2 linked regions of the Homo sapiens genome follow. The protein of the gene in region 1 purifies or fractionates together with the protein of each later gene. This does not show direct contact. Each region holds a gene or a part of one and is shown in the gene's direction. Other genes may lie near its edges. The genes, in order: REEP3 and UBE2O.

Region 1 (15,713 bases):
CCCACCGCCTTAAACACAGTTCCGCTATCTATCCCAGTATAATGTAAACAAGCTTGGGAAGCATGAATTAGATCTCCAGTTCTGTTACCAATGACCTATGTGATCACCCGCCAGTTGAGTTAACTTCTCTAAACCTCACTTTCCATGGTACCAAAAGGGAATAAACGCTATATGGCTTTTTAAGTTGTCAGAATGACTCAATGACACGTGTATAGCACATAGTAGGTGGTTTCCAACCCATGGCCTATTGAGATGTGAAAAAAGGCACTGTTCCAGGTAAATAGAAAGAAAGCAGCAAAAAGTAATCTAAATGTGGAAGAGGCAGAAGATATAATAAGCATACAAAATGAAACTTAACGCACAGCAGTCTAGGGACATTTCAGAGAGCAGCCAGCCATCCTACCTAGGTTGCCTTCAGCAACCCCTGAAGGCATTAATGTACTAGGATTAGCTGAAATAATTAATATTCACAATGATGACCTCCAAAGTAAAAAGGCAAGAAAGACATTTTTAAGAGACTTCCAATGTACGTGGCTGAAATTTTTTAAATCTGATGCCTAAAGAGTGACTGTATTTCACAAACATTATTCAAATTTTTATTGGACGTTTACCCTATCTGAGGCTAGATAGTTGGAAAACACAAAGAAATCTAATACACCATGTCTGTTCTCAAACATTTTACCATTCAGTACATTAGACATGGTAGAGGCAGAATGACACAGATAAGAAATAGAAATTCAAGTAATAAATTATGAGAGCACAGACAAAATTAGGAATAATTGTCCCTGAGGAAAACCAAGGATGTCTTCATGGCACAGGCCACTGAAAAATGAGAGTTCTGATAGGTACAGAATGGGGAGCAAAGTGTTAAGGGAAAAACGAAATCTGGGCAAAAGCACTGAGCATGAAAATACAGGTTGGCTGAAAGAAGAGAGGTAGGGAACGGGTACATTAGGAGTTGGGGGTGAAAGTAGTAAAAGTAAAGGCTGTAAAGCTATTTCAGGACCTTTCATGAAGGGATCTGAATGATATTCAAATTCATTTGAGTTTTATTGAACAAGAGAGTTCGCCAAAAAACTGGTGCTTATGCAGCACACCTGATCCTCAAATAATGCTGAATAATGGCCAAAAATAAAAGATTCAGAGTTAAATGCAAATTATTACTCAAATTCCTGAAATAAAAAGTCTTGACATGAATTAATAAGCGAAAAGAACCTAACCCAAGAGTAGAAAGTAGCTTCTGAGCTTGTTTCTTAAATAATGAAATATTACCCAATTTATTGACTGAGAACTGAAAATAATTTAGGATAATCTGTTGTGTCCTTTGATTGTCTTCCATGCAAGTCAGAGTATTTCCTAAACATATTATTTAGCAGTGCCTCATATCACCCTTGAAAGGCAAGAGACAGACTACAGTATTATTACCCCCTTTTTATCACAGGGAAACTGAGGAACAAGAAGACAAAATTACAGTATGGTCACAAAAGCCATCATATTTTCTAGGACTTTAATTAAAGGCTCCAAGCCTACATTTCATCTTTTATTCTTCGCACCATCTGAATACTAGAATTATCTTTTACTATCGTCTTAACTGGAAAAAATAAAAATATCTAAACTTTAACATCATTTTCTCAATTTGGTACTGTCACAAAAAAAAAAAAAAAACAGTTTTAAAAGTCTGCCCTTGAAATGATATTTGCAAGAACAGCAAGGTGTAAGCAGTAACCCAACCTCCAAAAAATACAGTTGTAAATCTTACAGCTGTAATATAGTTGTAAATCTTAAGACAGGTCAGGAATCCTAGACCCAGCCTTTACTTTGAACATCTGGCAGGCCTCAGGGAAATAATGGAGATTCGTGTCTGTAAACAGTCTTTGCAGATGCTCTGATGAAAAGGTGCCCTAAGAGGCCCAGAACAGTGGTATCACTGCACCCACTACTGCAAACATGAAATCCTCCTCTGTCCCTCCCTGCATTGCACCACGAGACTCGTGGCACACACGGAGGCCTGTGCAAGAACCTCTCGACGATTCCTTTAAAATGTGGTAATATAAGGACGCCTTTGGTGCTGGGCCTCCGTAAACACTGAGGATACCGGATGTGGCCAGGCACACCTCAAAGTCTTGGCTCTCCAAAACCAGGGCCTGGTCGAGAGTTTTATTGGACACCGAGTTCCTGCGAATATCTCACTTTTCACACAGGCACTGCCAATCCCTACCCTCCAGTACCCTTCCTCAGCCTCCTGCCCCACTCTCGCCGCGAGTGTGGGCGTCCCAAAGAGCTAAGGAGGGTAAGGTTGGTTAGAGCGCAGGGGCCAAGGCCGCGGCAGCGAGGCCGTCCAGCGCGGGCTAGGATCCCGCCAGCCCAGCCCTGGAGCCCGGCCGCCTGGCCCCAGCCCTGGCCCGGGCCAACGCGCCGCCGCCACCGCCTATCAGCGGAGCGCAGGGGCGGGGTGCTGTCCGGACTAGGCTGCCGGGCCGGCGGGCGGGGGCGGGCGGGGACGGGCGGGGGACCGACCTCTGCGCAGCCCAGGCCGCCGCGCGCACACACCGGGCCCGGCTCCTGAGGGCGCCAGCGCGGCCCCGGGGAGCGCGAGGAGCCGGCGAAGCGCGCGGCCTGCCGTTGGCGGCCTGGTCCGCAGCGCCCTGCGCCCACCCGCCCCGGACGTGGGGCCCAAGCCCCCGTGAAGATGGTGTCCTGGATGATCTCCAGAGCCGTGGTGTAAGTGCCTCTCACTGCGCCCTGCAGCCGGCGCGAGGCCCAGGGGAGCTGTGGGAAGGGGAAGGAGCCGAGAGGAAAGGGAAGGCCTGGGCCTGGGCGGGGACGGGGTAGCCCGGCCTCGGGCCTGCCGAGGGTCTGGGGGAGCCCTCGGCTTCCTCACCTTGGTCCACGTCGCTGCGGAGCTCCCTGCGACGGCCGAGGGCCTAGCTGCGGCGACTGCGGCTGCGACGGCGGCGGCGGCTGTGGCGCTGCTCGGCTGCGTGCGGTGCGGCGCGGCGCCCCTGCTCCGGCGGCGCTGGGTGGGCAGGCGCTCAGGGCAGGCGGCGCGCGCTCCCCGCTCCTGCTCCCCGCGCAGCGCGGCACCGCCCTGCGGGCCCGGGAGCGGCGCGCCTCGCAGCTGCTCCCTGCGCAGGCTCCGCAGACGCCGAGCGCGGGAGGCTCCGCGATCCTCCCGAGGATGCGACGGCAGTGCCGAGCCTTTGTATCCCGCGGCTGATGCGTTGCGGTGTCTCTCTTGGCGGCTGATTGCCATTCGGTCACGTGTGGTAGGAGGAGAGATTTGTCTAAAAACCGGAGACCGCTCCCAGCCCAGGATCCCTGGGAAGGGTCCTAGTTTTCCCAAGATTTGCAGCTTACCGAGAAAGGTGACACCGGCTGCTCGCCCAGATCCCCGAATTCGGCCCTGTCTCGGCGGAAATATTTGCTAAGTGATTGAAAGGCTGCAGGTGCCTGTTGCCTTTGTTCAAATTATGGGTTCATTTCATTGTTCTCCTACCAACAAGTGCTACAGGTCTGTAAGAAAAAGAAATTCCTTGAGTTGGTGGTGTTAATCGTGTAAATGTATTTGAATACAGTTTAAACTGATTTTCTCTCATCTCCATTTTACCCCTCTCCCCGATTAAAAAAAAAGTCACCAAGTAAACAATGACGTAGTTACAGCTAGGGCCTATGAATTCATTATTCACCTCTGTAGTAGTGTTATCTCAGAAGGTTTCATAAAGGTATATGAAAAAATGTTTATGTGAGGGGGCAGGCTTCTCTGATAAGCTTTAGAATTTAGGAAAAATAACATTACCAGACTTTTTGTTAAAAGGAGCTAGATTTTCTGAGTTTGGGGTTTATTTTGTTTGGAAGTGAATTACTAGCCCTATTTAATCAGATTTGCAGCACAGCATTCAAAATTTTTCATTTGATTAAATCGCAAAGTTTCTAGTTTTAAAGCCTCAGAGCTTCCTGTGTTCCCCTGTACGAAACTAAAAATCAAGATATAAACAAAAGGATACCACAGATGCCTTCAGATTGTTTTTCAGCCTTTTCCTGGCCTCTCTTTTGAGTCTGTCATTTATCTAATTCAGGCATACCTTTCTTGACCTAGTAGATGTCTATCAACTGTTGTGTCCACACCTAGAAAATCAAGTGCCCTATTAAGAAGCTGTACTTTACAAAAAAAAAAAAAAAAGCCTCTGGATTTCTTTGACCAGTTCTTCAGCTGACAGAAAATTGTGAAGCACTTTTAGACTTTTGTTTTTCATAATTGCCAATGAATATGAATGTCTGTTCTAGGTGCTACCTATAACACAAAGGTCAGTAACACGTAGTTGATCATGGGAATTGACAGTTTGGGTGCACAGATATCTGCAGTACAGGTCCAAATGTCAACTCTTGTAAAAGTTACACCCACTCTAATACCCAGTGTTGGACAAGGAAGGGATATCTGGTTGGAGAATCAGAAAAGGCAAGGGAGATTACGTTTCAGATGGGCCTTAAAGAATAGGCCCAGTAGAGTGGCTCACACCTGTAATCCTAGCACTTTGGGAGGCCAAGGAGGGAAGATTGTTTGATCACAAGAGTTAGAGACCAGCCTGGGCAACATAGCGAGACCTTGTCTCCACAAAAAAAGAAAAATTTAATTAGCTAGTCACAGTAGCTCACACCTGTAATCCCAGCTACTCAGGGACTGAGGTAGGAGGATCGCTCAAATTCAGGAGGTCAAGGCTGCAGTGAGCCGTGATCGTGCCACTGCACTCCAGCCTGGGCCACAGAGTGAGACTGTGCCTCAGAAAAAAAACAAAAAAGAATGGACAGAATCTAGGCAGCCAAAGATGAAAAAGGAAAGGATTCCAGATATAGGGACCGGCGTGAGCCAAAGCCCAGAGGAGGAAAAGCCCAGATTAGTTACAGTGGGCGTGAGGGACTCGGGTGGGGAAAAAGCAAGCTGGAAAGGTAGCCTGGGGCCTGTTTTCAAGAAAGAAGGGGTAAATGTTATAAGGCAGCAACAGCTTTGCTTTGGAAGATTCTCTGCCCTTCTGTGAAATGATTGGCAATGGAGACCTGGAAGACAAGGAGACTCCTTAGGAGGCTCCCTAACTGGAGAGAGGGGATTAAAGCCTCTCTCCAGTTAAAGTACTTGAGCTACAGAATGTAAGGTTTGAGGCTAACGACAGGGAGCAATAATGTGAGGAAGAAAATGTCATGAAAAGAAATGTATTTCTCAAGTGTCAGGAACTGTTATTTTGTGAGCCGTGAACACATTAGCACATTAGAAAGCACACTTGTAGAGAATATAAACATCATTCTATTTTTCCTCTTTACTCAGTTTCTCTCTCTAAACATGAAAGAGCAATCACAGGATCTACACAAACTTGGAAACCTTTTTCACACCAGGAGGTAGAATTTACTTGATTCTTTCTAACCCACTGAGACAACCACCTCCTCCTGAGCAAGATCAGACCCTTCTCTCAACATGAACCTCTGGTAGCATGGGCAGGGAACCTCCATAACCAAAGCACCCTGTATGTAGAAGCACTTTGTCCCAAGATCCTGCACTTTAACACCAGAGAAATTAGCCCTGGACACCACTCTTTTTTTTTTCTTTTTTGAGACAGAGTCTCTCTCTGTCGCCCACGCTGGAGTGCGGTGGTGTGATCTCAACTCACTGCAACCTCCACCTCCCAATTCAAGCAATTCTCATGTCTCATGACTCAACCTCCCAAGTAGCTGGGACTATAGGTGCACGCCACCACACCCGGCTAATTTTTTTGTATTTTTAGTAGAGACAGGGTTTCACCATATTGGCCAGGCTGGCCTTGAACTCCTAGCCTCAAGTGATCCGCCCACCTTCCTCGCTAAGTGCTAGAATTACAGCCATGAGCCACCGCACCTGGCCCTGGATACCACTGTTTACAGCTGCGTGGTCTTGGGCAGCATGCTAAACCCTTCTGAGCTTCAGTCTTCTTGCCTTTAAGTCATTATAATAAATACCACATGAAACCGTTGTAAAGAAAATTAGCCGGGCGTGATGGCGCACACCTGTAGTCCTGGCTACTAGGGAAGCTGAGGCACTAGAATCACTTGAACCCTGGAGGCAAAGGTTGCAGTGAGCTGAGATCGTGCCACTGCACTCCAGCCTGGGCAACAGAGCAAGACTCTGTCTCAAAAAAAAAAAAAAGACTGTTGTAAAGATTAAATTAGTTTAACTAAAACGTGGAAGTGTGGTGCTTGGCATTGAGTGTGCACTTAAAACGTAATAGATATATAGATAGCTTTTTTATGAGGGAAGTGAGTAAAATGGTGTAGGAAGAAATATCACTGGATTGTTACCAAGAAACTTGGAATTCAGAACTGGCTTTGGTTACCTTAACCAGCTGAATGACCCTGAGGCAGTCTCTTGCTGATTATAGACCTTGGTTCTATTTCTTAGAAGAGGCAAAGGGACCTGATAACCGCCAAGCTCTTTTGTCCAGCCTTAGCATTCTGTGATGATATGAAAGTATTTTTCCATTACTTACAGTCTGTTCAATCTCAGCTTACTTTAACATCACAGGCAAGATTGACAGATTAGTTACTTTTTTTTTTTTTGAGACGGAGTTTTTCTCTTGGTGTACAGGCTAGAGTGCAGTGGCACAATCTTGGCTTACTGCAATTTCCGCCTCCCGGGTTCAAGCAGTTCTCCTGCCTCAGCCTCCCAAGTGGCTGGGATTACAGACATGTGCTACCATGCCCAGCTAATTTTTGTATTTTTAGTAGAGACGGGGTTTCACCACGTTGGCCAGGCTGGACTTGAACTCCTGACCTCAGGTGATCCTCCCACCTCAGCCTCCCAAAGTGCTGGGATTACAGGCATGAATAGTTACCAATTTTTAAGGGATAGTAGTTTGAGATTACCAATGATGTTCCATTCATATATGATATCCACACCTCACCTTTTGAAACATGACTCTCATAAGTTGAGGGAAATTCCATTTTTTTCCCTAACTTTTCTTAATTTGTTTTTATGATCTAGCATTGTGATTAAGATCAAGATAAAAGCCAGATTGCCAAATTCAACTATTAACTCTGCCATTTATGCGTCATAACCTACCCCATGGGATTAAATACATTACTATATGTAATGTCCATAGTCCAGCATCTGGCACATAGTAAGCATTCAGTAAATGCTAGTAGTAGTTATCAGAAAAAGGAAAAACATGCTCTCCTAAAATCCCAGCATGCTGAATGTTTGAAGTATCTTCAATATACATTTTTTGTTTGAATCACTTTGTGTGTAGGTAACATAATTTTAATTAGAGTATAGTAAAAATGTTATACTAGTCTTTATTATATTGTAAGCATCTTCTATGTTGCTCTGAAATCTTATAAGCATCTTCTATGTTGCTCTGAAATCCTATTTAGTATCTTCTGTTTGATCAGGCCAGTATTATTTTCTTAGCCATTCATCTATTTGTATTTAATTTTACATTTAGATAATTTTTAATATTTCATTATTATAAGTAATGCTGAAATGCAATTATAATGCTATAATGGACATTATATATACTTCTTTTGAAGTACATACTTCTTTGGGATAAAAATACAAGAGGAATATTTCTGAGTCAAACACTGAATATTTTTATGATCATTGATATGAATTGCCAGATTGCTTTCCAAAAGAATATTAATATTTTACATGCTAGCAGCAATGTGTGAGTACTTTCTTTATCACAATGTAGCCAGAATCGGAAGTTTTAATTTTTTAATACTTTACCAATAAATATAACATATCTCATTGTTTTCTTTTGTATTTTATTTATCAGCACAGTTGAATGCTTGTCCAGATTTTTATTAATTATATATATTATGCATACAGTATGTATATACTTTGCCCATTTATCTCTTGGTTACTTGATAATTTACTTGTTTTGTCTGAGCTTTTTACATAATAAAGGAATTAACCTTATGTGATATTTCATGCAAATGTGTTTCTCAATCTAATTTCAGTTTTCTTTTAGATATTTTATTCTTGGTTGCATAGAGAGTTTATAGTTTTAATATAGTTCGCCTTCTTTGTTTTTTATTTTGTGATTTCTTGATCATTTCTAAATGTAAAATTAGATACTACAGATATTTGATAAGTACTACTTTCCTATGTAGAAGTGGATTAATTTGGAGACTTCCTTTTCAATTCTATATATCGATATTTCCCTTTTTTACAATGATAATACATTTTTGTTTTACCTTAGTTTAATTGTCTGGCAGTACTCTTAAAACCCGCAATTATTTTTCTCTGATTCTCTTCATTTATATTGGGTGCTATAATGGATGTCTTCAAAGGCTAAATTATACACCTTAAAAACCATACTTCAGCAGCTTTCCCCCTTCTTTTCAGCTTCATCTCTTTTTTCTTCTCTACTAGATCTTTCTCGACAGCATACCAACATGCTATTACTTCTCCCATCTTAAAAAAAAAAACTCTTTTAATCTACTATACTTTTCATCTTATCACCCCATTTCCCTCTGTCTCTTTAGAGCAAAAATTCCTCAGAAGAATAGTCCAAGCCGGGCACAGTGGCTCTTGCTTGTAATCCCAACACTTTGGGAGGCTGATGCGTATAGATTACCTCAGCTCAGGAGTTCCAGACCAATCCAGGCAACCTGGTGAAACCCCATCTCTACAAAAAATACAAAAAACAAAAAAATTAGCTGGGCGTGGTGGTACATGCCTGTAATCCCGGCTACTGTGGATGCTGAAGTGGGAGAATCACTTGAGCCTGGGATGTTGAGGCTGCAGTGAGCCATGAGCATGCCACTGCACTCCAGCCTGGGCAACAGAGTGAGACCTTGTCTCAAAAAAAAAAGAAAAATAATTTTTTTAAAAAAAGGATAGTCTATACACCATCTTCACTTTCTTTCCTTCAGGGTACTCTGGAACCCATACGTTTGTTTAGACTTTTCTCTCCTTCCACTCCACTGAAATTGCCCTTCTCAGATCAATAGTGACCGCCACTTGGCCAAACTGTTTGATCCTCATCTGACTTATCAGCAGCTTTTGATACAATTGCTCACTTTCTCCTTGAAGTATTTTCTTCACTTGGTTTCCAAGAAACCTTGCTTTTTTTTGTTTTTTTTTTTTTTGTTTTTGTAACTCAACGGCCACTCCCTTCTCAGCCTACCTGGCACATTTCTCCATGTTCCTTGACTTCTTAAAGTTGTTAAAGTTGGCATGTCATGGGGATCAGTCCTTAGACCATTTTCTCTTTTCTATTTGTAGTCCTTTAAGGATTCCCATTAATTTACATCTCCAACCCAGATCTCTCTGCTGAACTCTGTGATCATATTTTCAGCTGCGTTCTTTGCTCCACGTGGAAACATCTGAAAGTCAGACTGAACTTAAGACATCCAAAACTAGGCTCTTGAGCTTCCTTCCCCATCTGGCTCCTCTGGCAGCTTTCCCCCACTCTGTTAATGCCAGCTCCACCTACTAGCAGCTCAGGCCAAAGACCTTGGGATCATACCATCCTTGATTCCTCTCTTTCTCTAGTTCCCTACATTGAATCCGCAAATCTTGTTGACTCTGCTTTCAAAATACATCCTGTACTCACCACCTTTACATACACCATTCTAGTCCAAGCCAGCATCATCTCTGAAATGTGTTGTAGTGGCATAGTGTCCTGTGTCTGCCCTTGTCCCTCCTCAACAGCAGCCAAAATAGTCCTGTTGAAACCCAAGTCAAGTCATGTGACTCGTCTGCTCACAACCCTCAGATGACTTCCTGCCTCACTCAGGAAAGCCAGGTCCTTATGATGGTCTACAAACAGGACATGATCTGGACTTTTTTCCATCTCAAACCTTTGTCTCTACCTGCCCGCTGCCATTATAACTCCAGCCACAGTGATCTCCAACACAGTGGAGATCTGTGATCTCCAGGTAAGACCTGAGAGCCTGGGCACTTGATGGCCCCTGCCTCAGTGCACTTCCCACAGATACCCTCCTGCCTCATTCCCTCGCTTCCTTCAGGTGTTCACTTTCTCAGTGACCCCAGCACTCCTGCTTTCCTTCCCCGCTCCGTTGTCTGTAGTATTTGGTACTTCACTTCTTTAACCTATCATCTGTCCTCTCCAACTAGAAAATAGTCTCCATGAGAGAAGTCTTTTCTCTAATATGTTCATTGCACACAAAAGAAGCTCAATAAATATTTTCCGCAGTAAGAGAATGAAAAAAATGAATGTGAACTATAAATCACAGAACTATTGATAGTAAATATTATGCCTCATGAATTTGGGGACTGCCTTTTTTTCCCTCCTCCAGAGCTTATTTCACAATTAATTTTTCTCATGAAAGCTGCAGTGAATGAATTATTTGGAAAGAGAGACTGAAAGGATCTCAGCATTGAATAAAGTTTTTTTCACTAATGAGCCTCTTTCCAGACACACTTATTCCAGATAGGGAAAAGAGAAAAGGCTCTGCATTTGTACTGTTACTAAAAACAATCTCTTTAAACCTTGGTAACCTAGCTAAAATTGTTCTGGAGATAGATAGGGAAGTAGGATTGGATACCTTAACAAATATAGGAAAGAAAACAGAATAATATGACTGGAAGTGAATGTCATTCTTTTATTTATTTTATTTATTTATTTATTTTAGAGACAGGGTTTCACTCTGTCATCCAGGCTGGAGTACAGTGCAGTGACATGATCCTGGTTCACTGGAGCCTCAAACTCCTGAGCTCAAGCAATCCTCCTACCTCAGCCTCCCAGGTAGCCAGGACTAGAGGCATGCACTACCACACCCAGCTAATTTTTTTATTTTACTTTTGTAGAGATGAGGGTCTTGCCATATTGCCCAGGCTGGTCTCCAACTCCTGGCCTCAAGCATTCCTACCACCTTGGCCTCCCAAAGTGCTGGGATTACAGCTGTGAGCCACTGCCCCGGCCATGAATGTGATTCTTTTTTTTTTTTTGAGACTGAGGAGTTTTGCTCTTGTTGCCCAGGCTGGAGTGCAATGGCGCAATCTCGGCTCAATGCAACCTCCACCTCCTGGGTTCAAGCAATTCTCCTACCTCAGCCTCCCGAGTAGCTGGGATTACAGGTGGCCACCACCATGCCCTGCTAATTTCTGTATTTTTAGTAGAGACAGCGTTTCACCATGTTGGCCAGGCTGGTCTTCAACTCCTGACCTCAGGTGATCCACCTGCCTTGGCCTCCTCAAGTGCTGGGATTACTAGCATGAGCCACTGCGCCCTGATGAATGTCATTTTTATATTCATCTTTGCTATAATATAGCAAGAGAATGTACCATTTGTTAGGGTATATGTTTGTTAAGTTTATGATAGGATTAATGAAAAAATCCTCATTTTTAAATCCTTATGGAAGTTTGAAGGCAGTCACAATTATATGAGTGATATTTTTCTTCCTTTATATGTGCTTTAAATTTTTTAACTGGTTGTAAAATCTCAATGATAGCTAAAATATTTTCTTTCAATTAGGTTAAGGTAGATTTTGTCTTTATTTACCATTTTTTATGAGATCCATTGTGAATAGCTTACATGTTCATGAGTTGTATCTAAGAATAAGATACATTGCTATTAGACAATGAGAAATCAGGTAAATAGGAACAATGATGTTTTCAAGAAAATTAAAAGGTTGACATTTTAAAAATATATGTAGGAAATGCCCTGTAAGAGGTCATCTTTTCTGTCTTCTTTCATTAAGAAAGAAAACACATTCTAAACTATTGGGTCTTGTTTTCACTGCATGGGCTAGAACTTCCAACAAGATTCCTTTATTAGCCTGCATTTCAAAAACAATTTGCTTTTGTCCATTTTTTGTTACTGTTGCTCTGTTAGCTATTTCTTTTTCCACTATATTTTAAACCCTTTTAGGATGGAGATTTTTATATTATGTACTTTAAGTATAGATGAAACTGTTCAAATAAATGGTACATTACAACAATAGTGGCATAAATGGGTATTTTAAATATCTTAAAAGATGTTATTGTTTTGATCATTTCATGGAAAAAGGTTACTGTTGATTCATAACAACATGAACTTATTTTTATGTCATTGATTACACATTTGCACTAAACTAATCCTTTCATACAACTTTTGAGGTAAATGAGAGGTTAAAGATAAAAATTTTTGTTATAAAATTGTTCATGTTTACAAAACTAACTGTTAAGGGTTTATGCATACTTACCCCTATTACTGAAGTAAATTTACCAGTTTCGTTCATGTTGTTATATTTACAGAGGCCACTATGACTGAAAATCAGGCGAGATGGCATACTCACTAAAACACTGTGAACAGGGAAAACAGTAGCAATCAGGATGGAATTATCCAACAGTGGTTAGAGATTATTTTATGTAATGAGCAGACCAGCTAACGTTAGAATGTTATATAGCCATTCATAATTATTTTCAAAGTACTTTTCATTTCATTTGAAGATGTTTTAATATATCACAGTTTCTTAACCTCAGCATTATTCATATTTTTAAGTGGATAATTCTCTGTTGTGGGAGACTCTCCTGTGCATTGTGGGATGTTTAGCAGCATCCACCAGTTGTGACAGCCAAAAATGGCTCCAGATATGGAATTGACATATGTCACCTAGTGGGCAAAACTGCCACTGGTTGGGAACCACTGTGTTAAGTAAAAAGGGAAGAAAAATATATATGGAGAGGGCATGAGGCTAAAAACTGTGCTATCTCATATGGTTATGTGTGGCTATTTAAATGTAAATTAATTAAAAATTAAATTTCTCAATACACTAGCCACATTTCAAGTGCTCAGTAGCTATGTGAATGCTTATCTTATTCTGTGCTACCTTACTGGGCAGCATAAAAATAGAACATTTTTATCATCGCAGAGTTCTGTTGAAGTGATCCTTTACGAGATATAGTCCGCTCAGCATCTCCACCTGAAAATGGCTGTGCTATTTTCTATTTGCTGCTTCTATGTATTTTATGAGAGAAATTCTATAATGATATTTGGAAATTCACAAGTATCTTAGGATAGCTCTGGCTTAAGAATATTCTATATAAAAATACTGTTGCTACTTGTAGAAAAGAAATTACTGTTGCTGATCAATCTGTCACAATCTTTATTATTTCAAAATTCCTATGTTTACAGAGAATTTCTAAAAATTGATGAAAAATACTGATATAGTACACTTTGCAAATATTTTTATACTCACGTATTCTGCACATCAGGTGTTATAATCCATATTTTTTAGCCTGTAAATGAAGTATGACTTACAAGTTATAGTTTTTCCTGGTCTTAGAATTGATTAAGACATTAGGATTAGAATACAGAGCTGAAGGTTATCACTATGTTGCTTTTCCTAACTATTAACAGTGTCATTGACTCTGCAGAATCAAAACTATCAAGGAAATCATAAAAGTAAAAGTCATAGGACAAATCTAAACAAAATAGGTTTATGCTAACCAATAATTCAAAACATAATCTTAGGAAATATTCAGATATATTAATACCGAGAGCATTAACACTTTCAAGTAATGATGTGTTCATTTTAGGAAAGAATTATTCTCACCTATAAATAAAGAAATAAAGTGCTGTAATCCCAGCACTTTGGGAGGCCGAGGTGGGTGGATCATGAGGCCAGGAGATCAAGACCACCCTGGCTAACACGGTGAAACCCTGTCTCTACTAAAAATACAAAAAATTATCCGGGCGTGTTGGCGGGCGCCTGTAATCCCAGCTACTCGAAGGGAGGCAGAATGGCGTGAACCCAGGAGGCGGAGCTCGCAGTGAGCCAAGATCGCGCCACTGCACTCCAGCCTGGGCGATAGAGCGAGACTCCGTCAAAAAAAAAAAAAGAAAAGGAGAAAAAAAAATTCAGGAGTTCCACACCAGCCTGGGCAACATGGTGAAACCCTGTCTCTACAAAAAGTACAAAAATTAGCCGGGCATGATGGCATGCGCCTGCAGTCCCAGCTACTCAGTACTCAGAAGGCTGAGGTGGAAGGATCCCTTGAGCCCAGGAGGTAAAGGCTGCAGTGAGCTAGGATCGTGCCACTGTACTCCAGCCTGGGCGACAGAGCGAGACCCTGTCTCATAAAAAAGAAGAGGAGAAAAAATGTCGAACAAACTAACTGTCTTAGAGTCATCACATGGGGAAGGGGGACAGATTTTTCTGTTATTGTGAATCCAAGGTTAAAGGTAGGTCTTATAAGGAAGCCAGTTTTATTCCATATATTGAGGAAAACTTTATAACGTCTAAAATTGTTCAACTTTGAAACTGCCAACATCATGAGTGCAGTGTGTATACCATCACTAGAGGCATAAAGGCAGGGTAGAACCCTAGTTGAAGATCTTAAACTATACTGCTTGTATGCTTCCTGTGGAGGATCAGATAGAAAATGTGGAATGCACTTTCACCAAAACTGTGAAGTGGGCAAACTGACTCTTGGAGAGGCCCACAGGAACAACAAGCCTAGTCGTTCTTGAGTGTTGACATGAAGAAAGTGCAGATATGGAAATAAAATAGAATATTTGGTGATATTTGCCTAATGGATACCGTTATTGTCATGATCAGTTCTTCACTGGTTTGTGGCTGTGGTCTTTATTTTCTGCTTAGGAAGCTGATCAATCTCACTATTGCTGAACACACTTCCAAGTTGTTCATTCAGTCCTTTTTATTTGCATTATATTTTTGGTTATTAATTTTCATCAACCGTAGTTTTTTTCTGGTTTTCTGAAATATAGGGACTTTCTGTTTTAACTTTGTATACCTAAGTTAATTTTGTAAATAGAAATGATAATGGTTTTAGGATGTTTAATGGATCGTGAGTGAATGAAAGTACTCTTTAAAGATATACCTATATAAGTCCACATGAAAGAGCCTTGGAAGTATGTAAATCTTTTTTTTTTTTTTTGAGACGGAGTCTCGCTCTGTCTCCCAGGCTGGAGTGCAGTGGCGCGATCTCAGCTCACTGCAAGCTCCGCCTCCCGGGTTCAAGCAATTCTCCTACCTCAGCCTCCCAGGTAGATGGGGTTACAGGCGCCCACCACCATGCCAGCTAATTTTTGGTATTATTGGTAGAGACAAGGTTTCACCATGTTGGCCGGGCTGGTCTCAAAGTCCTGACCTCAGGTGATCTGCCCACCTCGGCCTCTCAAAGTGCTGGGATTGCAGACATGACCCACCGCGCTTGCCCTGGAAGTATGTAAATCTTAAAGAACCTGAAAATATTAAGGTGTGAAATAAAGTTATATGAGAAAAATAGTCAGAAAGTTCTGTGTAGAGATATTCTAAAAAAAACCTGATCTTTCCTTGCTAAGTAAAAATGAGAAATTTAAATTGGAAATAAACTTTTTTGTCCACAAAGATTATGCTTATTATGATGAAATAATTCTTAAGAATTTCTAGATGTTATATCTTGAAGTATTATTATTTTTTATTTTTTTTTTGTTTTTTAGAGACAGGGTCTCCCTCTGTTGCTCAGGCTAGAGTGCAGTGGCACAGTCATAGTTCACTGTAACCTCAAATCCCTGGGCTCCAGCGATCTTCCTGCTTCCACCTCCTAAGTAGCTAGAACTATAAGCACACACCACCACATCCAGCTAATTTTTTATATTTTGTAGAGATAGGGCCTTGTTATGTTGCCCAGACTGTTCTTAAACTTCTGGCCTCAAGTGATCCTCCTTCCTTGGTCTCCCAAAGTGATGGAATTACAGGCGTGAGCCACTACAACCAGTTTTGAATATTTTATGTGGTAA
Region 2 (15,713 bases), on another chromosome or scaffold:
GGCCGTCCTCGGACTCCGGCCCAGAAGCCGGCTCGCAGCGCCTGCTGTTTTCTCACGACCTGGTGTCGGGCCGTTACCGTGGCTCCGTGCACTTCGGGCTGGTGCGCCTCATCCACGGCGAGGACTCGGACTCGGAGGGCGAGGAGGAGGGCCGCGGGAGCTCGGGGTGCTCCGAGGCCGGGGGCGCGGGCCACGAGGAGGGCCGGGCCAGCCCCCTGCGCCGCGGCTACGTGCGCGTCCAGTGGTACCCGGAGGGCGTCAAGCAGCATGTGAAGGAGACCAAGGTGCGGCGGGCGGGGGCTGGGCGGCGCGGGCGGCAGGGGGTCGGCGGCCGGGCCGAGGCCAGGGAAGGACGGCGTGCAGGGCCCTGCCCGGAGCGGTGCCACTGCAGTGGCCGACGCGGGAGGACAGCCCCAGTGGAGGGTACACTCCATGCAAAGTCATTGCAGCAGCTCTGGGCGCACACGCCAGCCAGGCACTGCTGGCCCGGGACCGGGCGGGCCCTGGGCTTCCCGACTTGAGGGGACTTCTAAGACATGTTATGCTGTGGTGTCGGCCTCGAGATTTAGAGACGTGGACCGACTCCCGTGGGGACTCAGGTTCTGGGGCGCGTTCGGCGTTACACCAGTGCGGCGTTTTGCTGACCCCCAAGGAGCTCGGTACTGCATTGTGCATCCAGAAATGAAGGCCGTGCCGGGTCCGTGCAGGGAGGGGTTGTGGGCATTCCAAAACAAAGATAGAGGTGAAAATCCCAGCCGAACCCAAGAAGTTCACTAGCTTACAGGCTGCATTATGGTGAAGCCACCCAGCCTCTTTTTGTTTTACCCTGCTGCCTCCTTTTAATTGCTGCAGGGAACTTTGTGAGTAAAATCATTAGCAATCAGAGCCCCGGTATGAATAGTACTTGGGGGGGAGGATTCTGACAGCTGCGACCGGGATTGATGACTCCTAAGTGCATATGGACTCCTTGAAAAAAATAATCCAGAACCCTGGGTAGAGGGGAGTCACCAATTTGGAAACCCGAAGGTTTTTTCTTGACCTGAAGCTGTTAAGCAGACATCTGACTCCCGTATGGTTTTTGGGGTGATGCTAGTGAGTATAGCAGTTTTACAAAACAAAGAGGCTTGTCATCATAAACCCGAAACCTTGAACCCGGGTTGGTTTGGTGGCTTGTTTTCCAGAATGTGAATTCCTATCAGTAATTGACACACACACACACACACACACACCCCCCTGTATCTCACACCCCTTCTTTCTCTCCTACTTCCCCTCCCCTTCAAGAAAACATTTCTAAGCAGGAATCAGGCCTACGCTGTTTTAGGTCCTTGGGAGGTTGAGAGGTCTGATTTCAGGGGAGGGCACTTTGGAAGTTGATCTGGGTTTCTCACACAGTGGGAGACAAAGACTACAGAGGAACGGGGTTTCATGTCAAACTACAAAGCGGGGTCTGTGACAACGGCTTGAGAAGGAAAAAGGCCCCACTCCAGAGAAGAGCACATGATCCATTTCCTAGAGGCAGAAGTGACTGCTGATACCAGCGGGGTCTTTTTGTTGGGGATGCACATACATCCACAGACACAAATCCACACACAGGACCCTGCTTCCCCTCAGAGAAATGTGAATCAGGCAACAGCTCTGAGACTTGGAAGGAAAATTATCAGTCCATTTACAAGAGTATTTGGAAAATATTACTTTTGTGCAACAGAATGCTTGTTAAAAATTACCCAGTATTGTGTCAGTAAAAGAGGGTTATTGCTGTATACTGTGTGACACCAGATGATTGCTGGTGTCTTTCTGTGAGTTTTTAAGAATGTTTTTCACCACCCATCTATTTGAGAGATTCGTGATTTTTGGAACGCAACTCATTTGACTGCAGCATCCTCTGTGTTGTGGCCTCCTGCCCTAGGACTCAGGGAGGTAGGCCCAGCTCACTACTGGGAGCCGCTATGTTTATCAGTTGTTGTTCCCGTCCGTCTTGACTTTGGTGGTTAACTTTGTTTGCAGTTATGCTCCGTTTGCCTCCTGCACTATGTGTAATTATACAGAGTTTGACTTGAAATACCTATTTTGGAGTTAAATCGAAAACAACGGCCGGGTGTGGTAGCTCATGCCTGTAATCCCAGCACTTGGGAGGCCGAGGCGGGCGGATCACCTGAGGTCAGGAGTTCGAGACCAGCCTGACCAACATGGAGAAACCCTGTCTCTACTAAAAATACAAAATTAGCTGGGCTTGGTGGCGCATGCCTGTAACCTGAGCTACTCGGGAGGCTGAGGCGGGAGAATTGCTTGAACCAGGGAGGCGGAGGTTGCGGTGAGCTGAGATGGCACCATTGCACTCCAACCTGGGCAGCAAGAGTTAAACTCTGTCTCAAAAGAAAAGAAAAAAAAAACAACAACTTTGAGGCACCACTTTGGATAGATTTTGCAGCTGGCCTCCTGTGACTTGCTTTGAATTTGTTGAAATCCGTTTTGTGGCTCGGTGGTGGTATTTTGTCATTGTAGCATCTGGGTTTAGCAAAAGCCAAGGGACGCAGAAATTCCAAGGAAGTGGTGGAATGGGATGCCCATTTATGGGTGGCAAGATATAGTTCTTTTAGGATTTAGAATAGGTTTGTTTTGGAGGGTGGAGTTTATACCTGATAGGTAGCTCTGTTACCATGAGCTATAGATACAGGTGACTGATTAGCTGAATGTCTCCTGGTCTGTTACTGACCACCAAGCAGGGTGGTAGGGTGGGTCCTGGGACCTTGCAGAACTGTGGCTTAGGATGATTTTTCTTCTCACCTCCTGCTCCTTATGAATTCCATCAAGGTGATAGTATGCCGTAAAGGAAAGACCATTAGACCAAGATTGACTAATCTAGTTATGAGATTTGAGAACCCAATTATTGACAAAATAATGTAGTGGCAGATTTTTTTTTTTTTTTGAGTTACTGGTTTGTTTATTATTTTTGGGATGGGGTCTCACTGTTACTCAGGTGTCCTTGAATTCCTGGTCTCACACAATCCTCCTGCCTCAGCCTCCCAGGTAGCTGGGACTACAGTAGTGATGGTTTTGAGAAACTTATTTTTTATTTATTTATGTTTTTGAGACGGAGTTTTGCTCTTGTTGCCCAGGCTGGAGTGCAATGGCGCCAGCTCGGCTCACCGCAACCTCTGCCTCCCGGGTTCAAGCGATTCTCCTACCTCAGCCTCCCGAGTAGCTGGGATTACAGGCATACGCCATCACGCCCGGCTAATTTTTTGTATTTTTAGTGGAGACGGGGTTTCTCCGTGGTGGCCAGGCTGTTCTTGAACTCCTGACCTCAGGTGATCCGCCCGCCTCGGCCTCCCAAAGTGCTGGGATTACAGGCAGGAGCCACCGCACCCGCCCGAAACTTATTTTTTTTAATAAGCTGCTACCTATTGAAAATTTTTGTGTGTGAGTTTCTTTTTTAAACAGAGTCTCTCTCTGTCACCCAGGCTGGAGTGCAGTGGCACGATCTCAGCTCATTACAACCTCAACTTCCCGGGTTCAAGTGATTCTTGTGCCTCAGCCTCCCGCATAGCTGGGATTATGGGCATGCGCCATCACACCCAGCTAATTTTTGTATTTTTAGTAGAGACGGCAGTTTGCCATTTTGGCCAGGCTGGTCTTGAACTTCTGGCCTCAAGTGATTCACCGGCCTTGGCCTCCCCAAGTGCTGGAATTACAGGCATAAGCCACAGTGCCTTGCCCCATTGAAATTTTTTAGTAGTATCTATTTAATGTGGAGTGTTTCATAGGGTGTGGCGTATTTTTGTAGTTTTCTCTGTAAATTGGAGGGCAATGAGTAAAGGCTTAATCTTAGTCTCAAGTTTTTAGTGAACAAATTTACAAAGAGAGATGAAGAGACTGGGCAGCAAGTCATGTCCTTTCCCTGCTGCCTTCATGAAAATAGCAACAGAAACAAAGTAAGTTCTTCCATGAAGCTATGGAATTTGTCGTGTTCCTGAGGCTTCCAGCCACCAAAATTAAGCCTCTTAAGGACTCAAAAGGAGCTAGTGGCCAGTGTCTCTTATATGCTTCTTCCTTTCTCCAGTCTTCTGACCTGTTCAGCGAGGTAGCCACTTGAAACTGTCCATCTGGCCATGGATCTCCTTAGAGGAGGCTTGCCCCTTCCCCATCACCAGTCATCCTTTGAATAAAATTTTGTAACAAAGCCAAATGCCAGCAGCCACTTAAACCTTCATGAGCACTGGCTAGACGTGGTGGGTCCTTCTGGTCTCCACCTGTCATGGTTGGGCAGAACAGCCCCCTGCGAGGTAAGGGAGCAGGACTGCTGTCTGTCAGTTCAAGTTCAGCCTTCGTTTCGGAGGCAAAGCGTTTATGCTTTAGCTTTCTTGTGCTTTTTCATCTCTTTTGCATTGTCTTTTGTTTTAAGTTGCCATGACATTCAGGGTTTCACCAGGTTTGAGATATAGTGCCTCTAAATTAGGGCTGTCTGTGATCACCCTGCTTTTATGAAGCTGTGTGTGTGAAACATCCCTGATGACAGGTCCCTCGGGAATTGGCTTTGCAGTTTATTTTTGGCTCCTACGCTGGCCAGCATTTCCATGGGGAAAGCTATTTAGGTGTAGCATCATGGCACGTGAAGTTTGTCTCACTTGTCTGGGTGCTGGGCCCATTAAAAGCAATTGTTCTTAGTGATGTAATGTGAAGAAGTTATATAAGGTTAACCAAGATGCAGGACTAAGTGAATCTAAATTGCGTTTTATTCAGATAGGATCACAGCACTTGTAGACTCTTAACAGCTGTTCTGTGATTTTATTCTTTGTCCCTTGATTTTTCCCCTTCTAGCCCTCGGGCCTCAGTGCCCTGATGGTGCTTCTGTCTGGCTGCTGCCTGACTCAAGGGTACTTTCCCCAGATGAAGGGTGTGTGTTTTGTACTGTGATTGGAAGCCAAAACCCTTGGGTGCTCTTCCTGGCTGTCACCTACTCTGAATGACCTTGACCAAGTCACTGCCTCATTTTCTCCCTCTGCAATGAAATAAGAGGTCTATCTTCCTAACCCCGATATGATCCTGCTCGGATGGAATAACCAGAAGTGTAGCTGGGTCAAGCCTAGGATGGCCACTTGGTTATTAGCAGACAGCATTCTGATGTCTGTCAGAGAGAGCCAGCCCTGTGCCTTCAGAAGATCACTTCCATGAGAAAGAGGGTGATGCTGCACCAAAGAGGCACCTTGGGAAGCAAAAGGTGCACGAGGCGGGTTGTGGGGAAGGTGGTTGTTTCAGGGGCATAGGAATTCCTAATGGCTCGTGTTGCTAGTGACCAGATGGATTATAGGTTTGACTTTATTAAACCTCTTCTAGAAATACTCATGAACTTCCTACCTCTGTTACTTTGTGAGAAATTCAGTAATGCACATTTAAAGTAACCCCGGCCGTCCTCCAGGAGGGGGATGGAATGAATCTGTATGTATGTATGTATGTTTCCAGAGTCTGAAAGGTCTCTTGAAATTCTCAAGACTGGTAATGAGATTATAAATTACAAAGATGATAGAGTATTGCTTTATATTTTAAGGTAATAAGAGCAGTCATGATCCAGGATACTGTTACTGTGTGCCAGGCACTCTTAGTGCTTTAGATGTTTTACTTCACGCTCACAACAACCCTGTGGTGCTATTATTAGCCCCATATTCCAGAGAAGGAAGCTGAGGAACAGAGAGGTTAAGTAAATTGCCCAGTGTCACACTTCTAAGTGGAGGAATCTGAATACAAATTGAACTAAATGTACTTTGTTCTCACCTGAGAATACTTAAGTTCAGGATTCAGAGATCATTACTATACGTGACCGAGTGCCCTGATCCAACATGAATCACAAGCCTTGTGGTTGGCATTAATCATCCCTTCTTTAAACAGTTGAAAGTCTTAGTGTAATAGGAGGTACTACAAGTGAGGAAGGAGAGAGGCACAGGATGTTGGGATAGGTGGAAGTTGTGCCAGTGGGCAGGCAGGAGGGAGGGAGATGATGGGTAGGGAGCAGGACGGGAGGAACACTGCATTCGCACTGGCGGTGTGCTTCTGCAGATTCCACTCTTTTCATTCCCTGACCCCTCAGTCATTCTCAAAATAACTGTCAAAAACACATTGCATTTCTAGAGAACCTTTGACTGCCCCTCAATGTTGAATGAAGCAACCTCTGTAGTCTGATTCATTCCAACACTGAACTGCAGTTCAGTTTTATTCCCCAACTCCACCTCCTAGAGCAAAACAAGTGTGCAGACACTCCACGTAACTGGCATTTCTGTGTTGCCTCAGAAGTGGTCAGCTCCATTAGGAGCTCCAACTTGACCTCCTGTCCGCTCTGCTGCTGTCATCCTTCGGCTGGGAATGCTGAGTCATGAGACAGGTTCAGGAAGGATTCCTTGGAGAGGCTGAGTTCCACCTCAATTTCAGTTTCTGTTCCCTTCAGTTTCCGTGTGTTTTTGCTTTAGGACATTAGAGGCCTCTTTGCACCTTCCCCATCTCTACTTCACTTTTATCCCTGTTTCTCTCTGTTTTGTTTGTTTGGTTTTTTTTTTTGTTTGTTTTTGTTTTTTCATTTTCCTGTTATACTAAGAGGAACTTTTTCTATTTTTTACTACTTAACCCACCATGGGGGCTCATGGAATCCAGTGGAACCTGTTGGGGGCCAGCACTTTTTAAAAGGGTGCAATTGTCGTGTATAACATGAATTGCCAGCACAACAGTCCTGGGCACGTGATCAGTGTCAGCTGCCGCTGGTGGTCGGTCCCCTCAGAGTTGGAGTCAGGGTGGTTTTCTGTGACATGTGGGTTTTCACCCAGGAGGATATGATCTGTGCTCCTATTCTGATGGAAGCTTTTGGAATTTCCTTGCCCAAGGCTTAGCCTGCTTCTGGATGGCGATGGGGAGTTGCTGATTTAAAATGACAATCAAAAGGGGCAAGTTACAATCAGGAACGTCTATAATGTGCTTTCCAGTTTACAAGAGGCTATCACTTTTCTCACTTAATAGGATCTCGGTATTTTTAACTGTAGCTCCTTCCTGAGGCTCCACTTGCCCATGAATGGGTGCCAGTCCTGGAGAAGGTCATGGTCTAAATGCTGCCCATCCACATTTGCAGCTCTTACTGAGCAAGAGTGCCCGTTCGGAATTGCTTCATCTTCTGACATTCCAGCCAGCCACGGGGGGACTCTGTCAGGAGCCACTTGATGTGTGCAGTTATAGCCAGGGAAGAGCAAAATGCTTATTGGAATTTGCTGTAGTTGAGAATAAAATTGAATTGTGTTACTGGATAACTCTCTGGATTTATCTACTCCAAGTTATTTGCCTTTGTTTCATTCGTTAGCTATACTCTGTGATTGAGGATTTAATGTCCTTCAATCCAGGCTGACTGTATTGGATGGATCCTTGGGTCAGCTTTGTCCAGGTCACCCCTAGACACAGGTAGGCTGTGTTCTCCTGAAGCAGTATTGTGAAAAGCACATTTTTATGGTTTAAACATTGCAGTCAGTTGACATACCACTCAGAAGTATTCAGTGGGCAATAAGGATTGGAATGAATGTCCTTTTTGGGTTTAATCTGGTTCTTTGGTTGGGGGATTTTGAGTTGGTTTGCATTTTTAGAGAGGCCACAGCAATATTTAATATTCTGCAGCTAAGTCAAAGGAGTAAGACATTTTTCAGGTCACTTTTGGTTTAAATTGATAGCATAACTATACCTGGGAAACAGTCTGACTATGATAATTGAAAGTAAAAAAAAAAATTAAAACACTGAGTCATGCTTGGAAAAAGAAAAAAAAAAAGGCAGTCAGTCCTACCCAACAATGACATGAATATTCCCAGCTAGCACTGACAGAGAGATTTCCTGCAGGCACCCTTAAAAAGAGAGGCCTTCATTTGCATCCTGCAAGAGAGCTGGTCTTTTCACACTCAGCAGCTCCGATGATGTTCTTCCTCCTCCTTTTAATTCTGGTCCTTTTTGTGGGAGCTCCCTCTGGAAGAGGGCAGTTGAAGATAGATACCTTGACCGGCAGATTCAGCGGACTGTGTGTGTGGTCACCGGACTGTGTGTGTGGTCACCGCTAGTGCAGGTGGGAAGTGTAGACACACAAATACGTCTCCAGGGATTCTGGGAGCCTCAGGGCTTGACATATGCAGTGCTGAAAGCATCCCGGTATTCATGTGCTCTGACTGTTTTATTATTTAAGGGATTCTGAGGGCCCTGAAGGTTGATGACATCATCTTCAAGCCAAGGAAGAAAGCATTTCTCTGGTCCCCCAGTGTGCTTTTGGGTCATCCCAGCACTGTACTGGGGGAAATGGATGTCTGCCTCCATTTCCTCATGACCTGCTCTCGCCTTCAGTCATTTTCTGTCTAACCTCTCACACCACTGAGTGTGACGGCTCCCCTGAAGGTCACAAATGACTAGTGAATTTCTGATCACTGCATTTGCTGACATTTTCTCAGTCCTTGTCCTCATTTTGATCCATCAGCCTTATGCTCTGTCACCCAGGCTGGAATGCAGTGGCGTGATCACACCTTACTGCAGCCTCCGCCTCCTGGGCTCAAGCAGTGCTCCCACCTCAGCCTCCTGTGCAGCTGGAACTACACACTCGGCTTTTTAAAATATTTTTGTAGAAACAGGGTCTCACCATGGTATTGGCCAGGCTGGTCTCGAACTCCTGACCCCAAGTGATCCTCCCACTTCAGCTTCCCAAAGTGTTGGGATTACAGACGTGAGCCACGGTGCCTAGCTGACCACACCCTCTTTGTTTTGTTTTGTTTTGTTTTGCTTTGTTTGTGAGATGGAGTCTCAGTCTGTCGCCCAGGCTGGAGTGCAGTGGTGCAACCTTGGCTCACTGCAACCTCTGCCTTCTGGGTTCTAGCGATTCTCCTGCCTCAGCCTCCCAAGTAGCTGGGATTACAGGCTCCCGCCACCACGTCCGAGTAATATTTGTCTTTTTAGCAGAGACGGGGTTTCACCATATTGGTCAGGCTGGTCTCGAACTCTTGACCTCAGGTGATCCATCCGCCTCAGCTTCCCAAAGTGCTGGGATTACAGGCATGAGCTACCGCGCCTGGCCGACCATGCCCTCTTAACGGTATTTCCTTCCTTGGGGTTCTATTATACCAGACTATACCAAATGTTTCTCTTTTTTGCCTTTTGTCTTCTTCCTCTTACCCATAGATGTGCAGCTTTTCCAAAGACCTCTCTTTTCTTTATCTCTTCCTCCCCAGTTTTTTGGAGTGACCTCCCTGCTTGTAGCTGCATCTGGTACCTGTATTTAGGTGACTTCCACAGTGACATCACATGCCCAGCTGCTTACTTGATAGCTCCATTGTGCCATGTAGACTTTGTGGGTATAAAATCTTGTGATTGTGACTGCCCTTCCCATCCCCAAGTCTGTGGACTTAAAAAAAAAAAAAATGTTCTGACTGGGCACAGTGGCTCACGCCTGTAATCCCAGCATTTTGGGAGGCCGAGGTGGGTGGATCACTTGAGGTCAGGAGTTCGAGACCAGCCTGGCCAACATGGTGAAACCCCATCTCTACTAAAAATGCAAAAATTAGCCATGCGTGGTGGTGGGTGCCTGTGATCCCAGCTACTCGGGAGGCTAGGGCAGGAGAATTGCTTGAACCCAGGAGGCAGAGGTTGCAGTGAGCCGAGATCGTGCCCCGGCACTCCAGCCTGGGCGACAGAGTGAGACTCTTTCTCGAGGAAAAAAATATATATATATATTCCCCAACTTTTTTTGTTTTTGGTTCTGAACCCAAGACCCAACTTTTTAATAGGAAAAAATATTGACCATACCAAAATGTTGAAAGCCAGTAATTGCTAACCCCCAACCATTATGAGTCAGCAGTTGTTAACATCCTGCCATATTTGCCTTATCTGTATGCTTATGTAAATATATTTCCTCCTGAATTATGTCTGGTACTAACTCCTGCTAAGTTAGTGGCAGACATGATAGCACTTCACCCCTAAATACCTAAGCTTGAATCTTCTCAAAATTAGAGCATTTGGGGTCATTTTTAATTTACCTTCTTTGGCCCTCATTCTAACTTGTCATCAGTTCTTTGAGAGGCCTCTTGCATCCTGTGCCTGCATTTCCCTTTCACAACCCTGGTTTGCTCTCTGCTTGCCTCATGCCTGCACTGTGTAGCCTTCTCCCTGGTCTCCCTGCCTCTAGTCCTCCTTCAACCAGTGAACAGCGCTGCCGCCAACTGACCTCCAAAGGGCTGACCTCCCAAGTGATCGCCTGGATTGTGTCAGGACCCAGCCTCTGATCATGCCTTGGTTGTCATTCAGGGCCCCTCACCTACACATCCTGCTCTATCTCCTGCCTCTTCAGTTGATTCCAGCCAATCTGACTGCTTTTCCCCAACTCAATTGTGCCGTTCCCTTCCTCTCATGCCCCATGGCACACCCACATTCTCTCCTGGATGGGAAGCTCCTTGAGAAACAGAGACAGCAAATCCTAAAGCTTGTGTGCTATCACGCACATGCAGACTCTTGGGAAACATCTTCATGAATGACCAGTTTGCTCCCTCCCACTTACTACAAATAGTATTCTTAGTCTTCTTCCAGATGCCCTGTGGTCTGTGCTGGAGCTGTATGGGCCCCTTACTAGACCACTCTGTCTCCCACCCCCCGTACTAGGTGTGTTGACCATGTACAGTAATTTATTGCCCAAGTTGGGTTCTTTTGAGAGTACTATGAATAATTACTCCAGGACTGGGACGTATGGGCATCCTAATACTAGGAAGAGCAGATTAATCAGAATACACCATATTGTAGTTACTACTTTGGCAACTTCCGTCGCGGGCTCCCCAGGCAGACTACGTGCATTGTGGACTAGGCTAGAGCTAGCTAGAGCTGGTGTCACCTGTGGTCGAAATGAAGCTGCTTCTGGCTGCATTTCCCCTGTAAGAACCCCGCCTAAAGCACTTGACAAATGGCAGATTCCACACACGTGGGTTTCCTGAATGGTTATCAGCACCCAGTCCTCACCTTAGGAGGATGGCTAAGTACGAACGAGGCTCTCTATTGGAAAAAGAATGCCCCACCCGACTGCAAATGAATCAGGAACGCAGCTTAGGCTATGCACTCTGCCTGCACCAAGACCCTTGGGGGCGGGGCCTGGAGTTGCAGTGGCTATGCCAGGCCTATTACTTTGAAGGAGTCAGGAACCATCTATTGAAAGTAGATATAACCACCCCTGTTTATCAGTGGAGGGGGAGGGGGAAGTGAAGAGAGCATGAATAAATGGATTCTAATCCAGCACTTTTCCAAGGTGAATGCCACATGCCATCACCTAGGGTCTCCTAATGCAAATTGTCCTAATTCCATTGGGCTGAAGAATCTGCGTGTCTAACAAACTCCCAGTGACATTGATGCTGCTGGCTGGGACTGTCTTTTGAATTGCACTTATATGGGCCCTTCCAAACCTCGTTGATGTCAATGGGTTCAGTTTTAGTACGTCTTTGGTTCGAGGCTTTTTCTCTCCCCTCTGCTTATTCTTCTAGTGCCAGTGTTAATGAACCGGGAATTGTCCAAAGGTGGGCTGCAGGAGGGGCAGGAAAGGGATGAGGCGGACTCATCATCCGCCAGTGCTTTAGTGTTAGAAAGGCTTGCCTCTTTCTTCCTCCCCATTGCTTGCTGGTGGTTATTATTAATGCACTGCTGTTGCTAAGAAGTTTCATTTGATTTCATTTCATTTTAGGATGTAAATATGGTAGTTGTTTTGAGTATAACACACCCAATCCAAGAGGAGAATGATTATTCAGCATTTTAATGAAATTGCTGTCTTTTATCCAGCCAGTGTCAATGGATTCCTGCTGTGAGCCAGGCATGTTAACTCACACTTTACCTGTGTCATCTCACTTCCCTTAAAGTGGCCAGTGCCCCATTTTAGAAAAGGAAAGACTGAAACCCAGAGAAAGCTTATAACTCACCAAGGCCACATAGCAAGTGGGAGGCCAACCCAAATTCAAACTTAGGCCAGTTTGTGCTGCCCGAATGCAGGTTCTCTTCACTGACTACACGGGTGCCCCCTGCACTGTGCTGGGTGCTGTGGGGAGAGAGATACCCCCACACAGGCCCTGCCCTCTAGATAAGGGGCCAGCCAAACTTTCTGTAAAGGGCCAGATGATAAATGTCCTAGTGTTGCAGGCTATACTGTCTCCTTCACAACAACTCAGCTTTGCCATTATAGCACAAAAGCATTCAGAGGCAGTAAGCAAATGAATGGGCATGGTCATGTTCCAATAAAATTTTAAGAAACAGGCAGTAGGCTGGACATGACCTGCAGGCTGTAGTTTTCCCACCTCTGCTCTGGAAGGATCCTGAAAAATAGAGATACAATGTGAGCCACAGCTGAAAAAAGTAAATAGAGGCCAGGCATGGTGGCTCATGGCTATAATCCCAACACTTTGGGAGGCCAAGCCAGGCGGATCACTTGAGGCCAGGAGTTCGAGACCAGCCTGGGCAACATGATGAAACCCCATCTCTTCAAAAAGTACAGAAATCATCTTAGCGTGGCAGCTTACGCCTGTAGTCCCAACTACTCAGTAGGCTGAGGTGAGAGGATCGCTTGAGTCCTGGCGGTCGAGGTGGCAATGGGCCGTGATCGTGCGACCCATTGCCCTTAAGCCTAGGCAACAGAGCAAGACCCTGTCTCAAAGTAAAAAAAACAAAGAGATGAAATTAATTTTAATATATTTTACTTAACCCAATGTATTCAAAATATTATATCAACATATAACTCATATGATAAGTACTAATGAGAGACTGTGCGTTCTTTTTACCATAGTGGCTACTGGATTGGGTAGCACTGCTTCAGAGACTTAGATAGGAGAGAGAACCATCGCTGTGATCTCCTACTCAGCTTTTTTCCCTCATAGCACCTGGCATTACCTGAGATTATACTACTTCATGTCCTGTTTACTGTCCCCAGCCGGAAGGTAAGAGAAGCACAGAAGCATCTCTGTCACTGCTATATCCTCAGTGACTGGCCCAAAGTAGGTGCTAGGAGAGATTTGTTTAGTGAGCACTTGGGAAATGGCAGATTGCACACATGCGAATGAGTGGAATTAGTGGGTGAATGACTGATGCACATAAGGGAGCGAGAGCCTAGTTCCACCTGCAGGACACAGTTGAGATGCTGAAGGATGTGGTGGGGAGCATTAGGAGATGCTGTCATGGAGGTGCCTTTTGAGTTCACTCTTGAAAGATAAGAGCTTGGAATAGCAGCAGTGGAGGGCAGGGCGTCCTGGGCGGGAAGTCCAGTGCGCATAAAGGCAAGAGAGGCAGGAAGTTCATTTCAGTGGTTTCAGACTTAGGCCTCAGAACTCCTTTAACTTAAAAATTATTGAGGACCACAATAATTTTTTAGCTTTGTGAGCTTTTATTTGTATGGGTTGTTTCTATTAACATCTACCATTTAAGAAAACAAACTTAAAAACCAAGAATGCCTGGGCATACATTCTATTGGCCATCAGAGCAGTGACGTCATCACACATCATGTAGCCTCTGGAAAATTCCACTGCAGACTTTGGAGAGGATGAGAGGAAAAAAGGCAAATAACGTCTTGGTCTTGTTATAGAAAATTTTTGACTTTGGACCTCCTGAAAGGGTTTCAGGGATCCCTGGGCCATATTTTGAGGACCACTGAGCTAGAGGTGGGGTGGAAGAAGTCAGGTGAGAGAGTGCTGGCAGGCGAGGCTGCACAGGACTGTAAATAACGATAACAACAAAGGTTTGTTGGCACCTGCCGCGTTCTAGGCACAGTCACTGGAGAACCCCGTGAAGTAGGTGTTCTTACTTCACAGAGGAGGAGAGGTTAAGGCAGTGAGCAGAAAGGCTTGGGCTAAAGCCAGGCAAGCGCCTCCAAACCACGCCGTCAGCTGCCCCTGGAAAGGCCACTGGTGTCATGCTTGCTGTGTGTGTGCAGGTCTTTGGATGACTGACTCAGGAGTTGGGATTTGTTTTTTACATAAAGAGGACTTACATCAGAGTTTACAATGGGTGATTTGGCGGCAGTTTACAAGGTGGAATGTGGGGAGCTAGGAAGCCTGGAGGCCAGTTAGGAGGATTTTATGGGGCAGATGAGTTGTGTCCTCTGTGCCCTCGGTGTGCATGGCGTCACCTATGCATGCATGGCGTGGAGTGCTAGAGGTGCTGACTTCTCACACAAAATGACCCGGAAGTGTGAACAAACATCTTCATTCCGTATTCAGTGGAAGAAGCAGTGATCTGTTCCAGTGCAAGAGGAAACACTGGTTATGTTGGTCTTACTGATGGATTTAAGGGATTTTTCAAGGATAATTTTAATGATGTTCAATTTGACTTAGTACCTAACCCCCCAGTAAAATCTGAAATCTATCGAACCTAAGAGAACAGTAATAAAGCTTTCAATTATTAGAGTAGTGAGGTAGAGAGAAAGGTGAGGTGGTTGGAGAAGGTTTCTCAGATGGGGCGCAAAGGTGTGAAGGACGTTTGAGGAATAACAGGTAAAGCATGTGTTTCACAGCCTTGCACGTACAGCTGAGCCGGGGTGTAGTGGGGGAGGTGGGAGACAGAGCAGGAGTAGGGACATTAGTGTGCCAGGGCTTTGAGGTGATCAGAAGAGCGACGAGGAGCCTTTAAGTTTTTCTTTTTTAATTGTAGTAAAATATGCATAACAAAATTTACCATTTTAACCATTTTTAAATAAACAGTTCAGTGCCATTAAGTACATTCCCATTGTTGTGCAACCATCCCCACCATCCACCCCCAGAACTTTTCATCATTCCCCACTGAAACTCTGTCTCAATTAAATAATAACTCCTCAAACCATTAAGTTTTATAGCTTTTAGAAAAACCTTTTCTAAAAGCAGTGGATGTAGACATGTGGTCACCTACCAAAAGGCAGTAAGAAGAGGGAAGCGTGGCAGAGACTCAAGCTTCTCATGAGCATGGCCAGGTGGCTGGTCCTGCCGGTAATAGCAGTGTGGACAGAGGAGTGGGGAGGGAGATTCCGTTTTGAACACATTGCAAATTAGATGCCTGGAGGCATCCAGGCAACGAGAGACACCTCCCTTCGAAGCGTGTATTTAGCCTGTCCCCCATCTTCCTTTAATTCTTATTGCTGTCCTATTTCATAACCTCATAATTGCAGTTTCTAAACAAACATTTTTTAGATTTATAGAACAGTTTCAAAGATCATACAGAAAGTCCTCGTATCCCCTTCACCCAGTTTTCCCTAATGTTCACATCTTACATATCATGATATATATTTGTCGAAAGTAAAAAAATTGACATTGAGCCAGGCACAGTGGCACGTGCCTGTAATCCAAGCTACTCAGGAGGTTGAGGCCAGAGGGAGGATCGCTTGGGTCCAGGAGTTCAAGGCCAGCCTGGGCATTGTGGTGAGACTGCATCTCGCAAAAAAGATATTAACATCAGCCACATACTGTTATCTAAACCATACACTTTTATTTGGATTAGTTTTCTTTTCCAGGATCCAATCCAGGATACTACATTGCATTTAACATAATTGCCTTTTTTTTTCTTTTTCTTTTTTTTTTTTTTTGAGATGGAATCTCGCTCTGTCGCCCAGGCTGGAGTGCAGTGGCATGATCTTGGCTCACTGCAAGCTCCGCCTCCCAGGTTCATGCCATTCTCCTGCCTCAGGCTCCTGAGTAGCTGGGACTACAGGTGCCCGCCACCACGCCCGGCTAATTTTG

Evidence for each region.
Region 2: the proteins of REEP3 (region 1) and UBE2O purify together in Homo sapiens (co-immunoprecipitation; 2 studies listed by BioGRID and IntAct, with this or other methods). This does not show direct contact.

The regions. Positions count from the first base shown.
Region 1 is NC_000010.11:63,518,857-63,534,569, forward strand, and holds the start of REEP3 (receptor expression-enhancing protein 3), read left to right. Parts: upstream 1-2,544; 5' UTR 2,545-2,689; coding exon 2,690-2,721; intron 2,722-2,881; exon of another isoform or gene 2,882-3,034; intron 3,035-15,713. UniProt on the Homo sapiens protein: Microtubule-binding protein required to ensure proper cell division and nuclear envelope reassembly by sequestering the endoplasmic reticulum away from chromosomes during mitosis.
Region 2 is NC_000017.11:76,437,296-76,453,008, reverse strand, and holds part of UBE2O ((E3-independent) E2 ubiquitin-conjugating enzyme), read left to right. Parts: coding exon 1-284; intron 285-15,713. UniProt on the Homo sapiens protein: E2/E3 hybrid ubiquitin-protein ligase that displays both E2 and E3 ligase activities and mediates monoubiquitination of target proteins. Negatively regulates TRAF6-mediated NF-kappa-B activation independently of its E2 activity.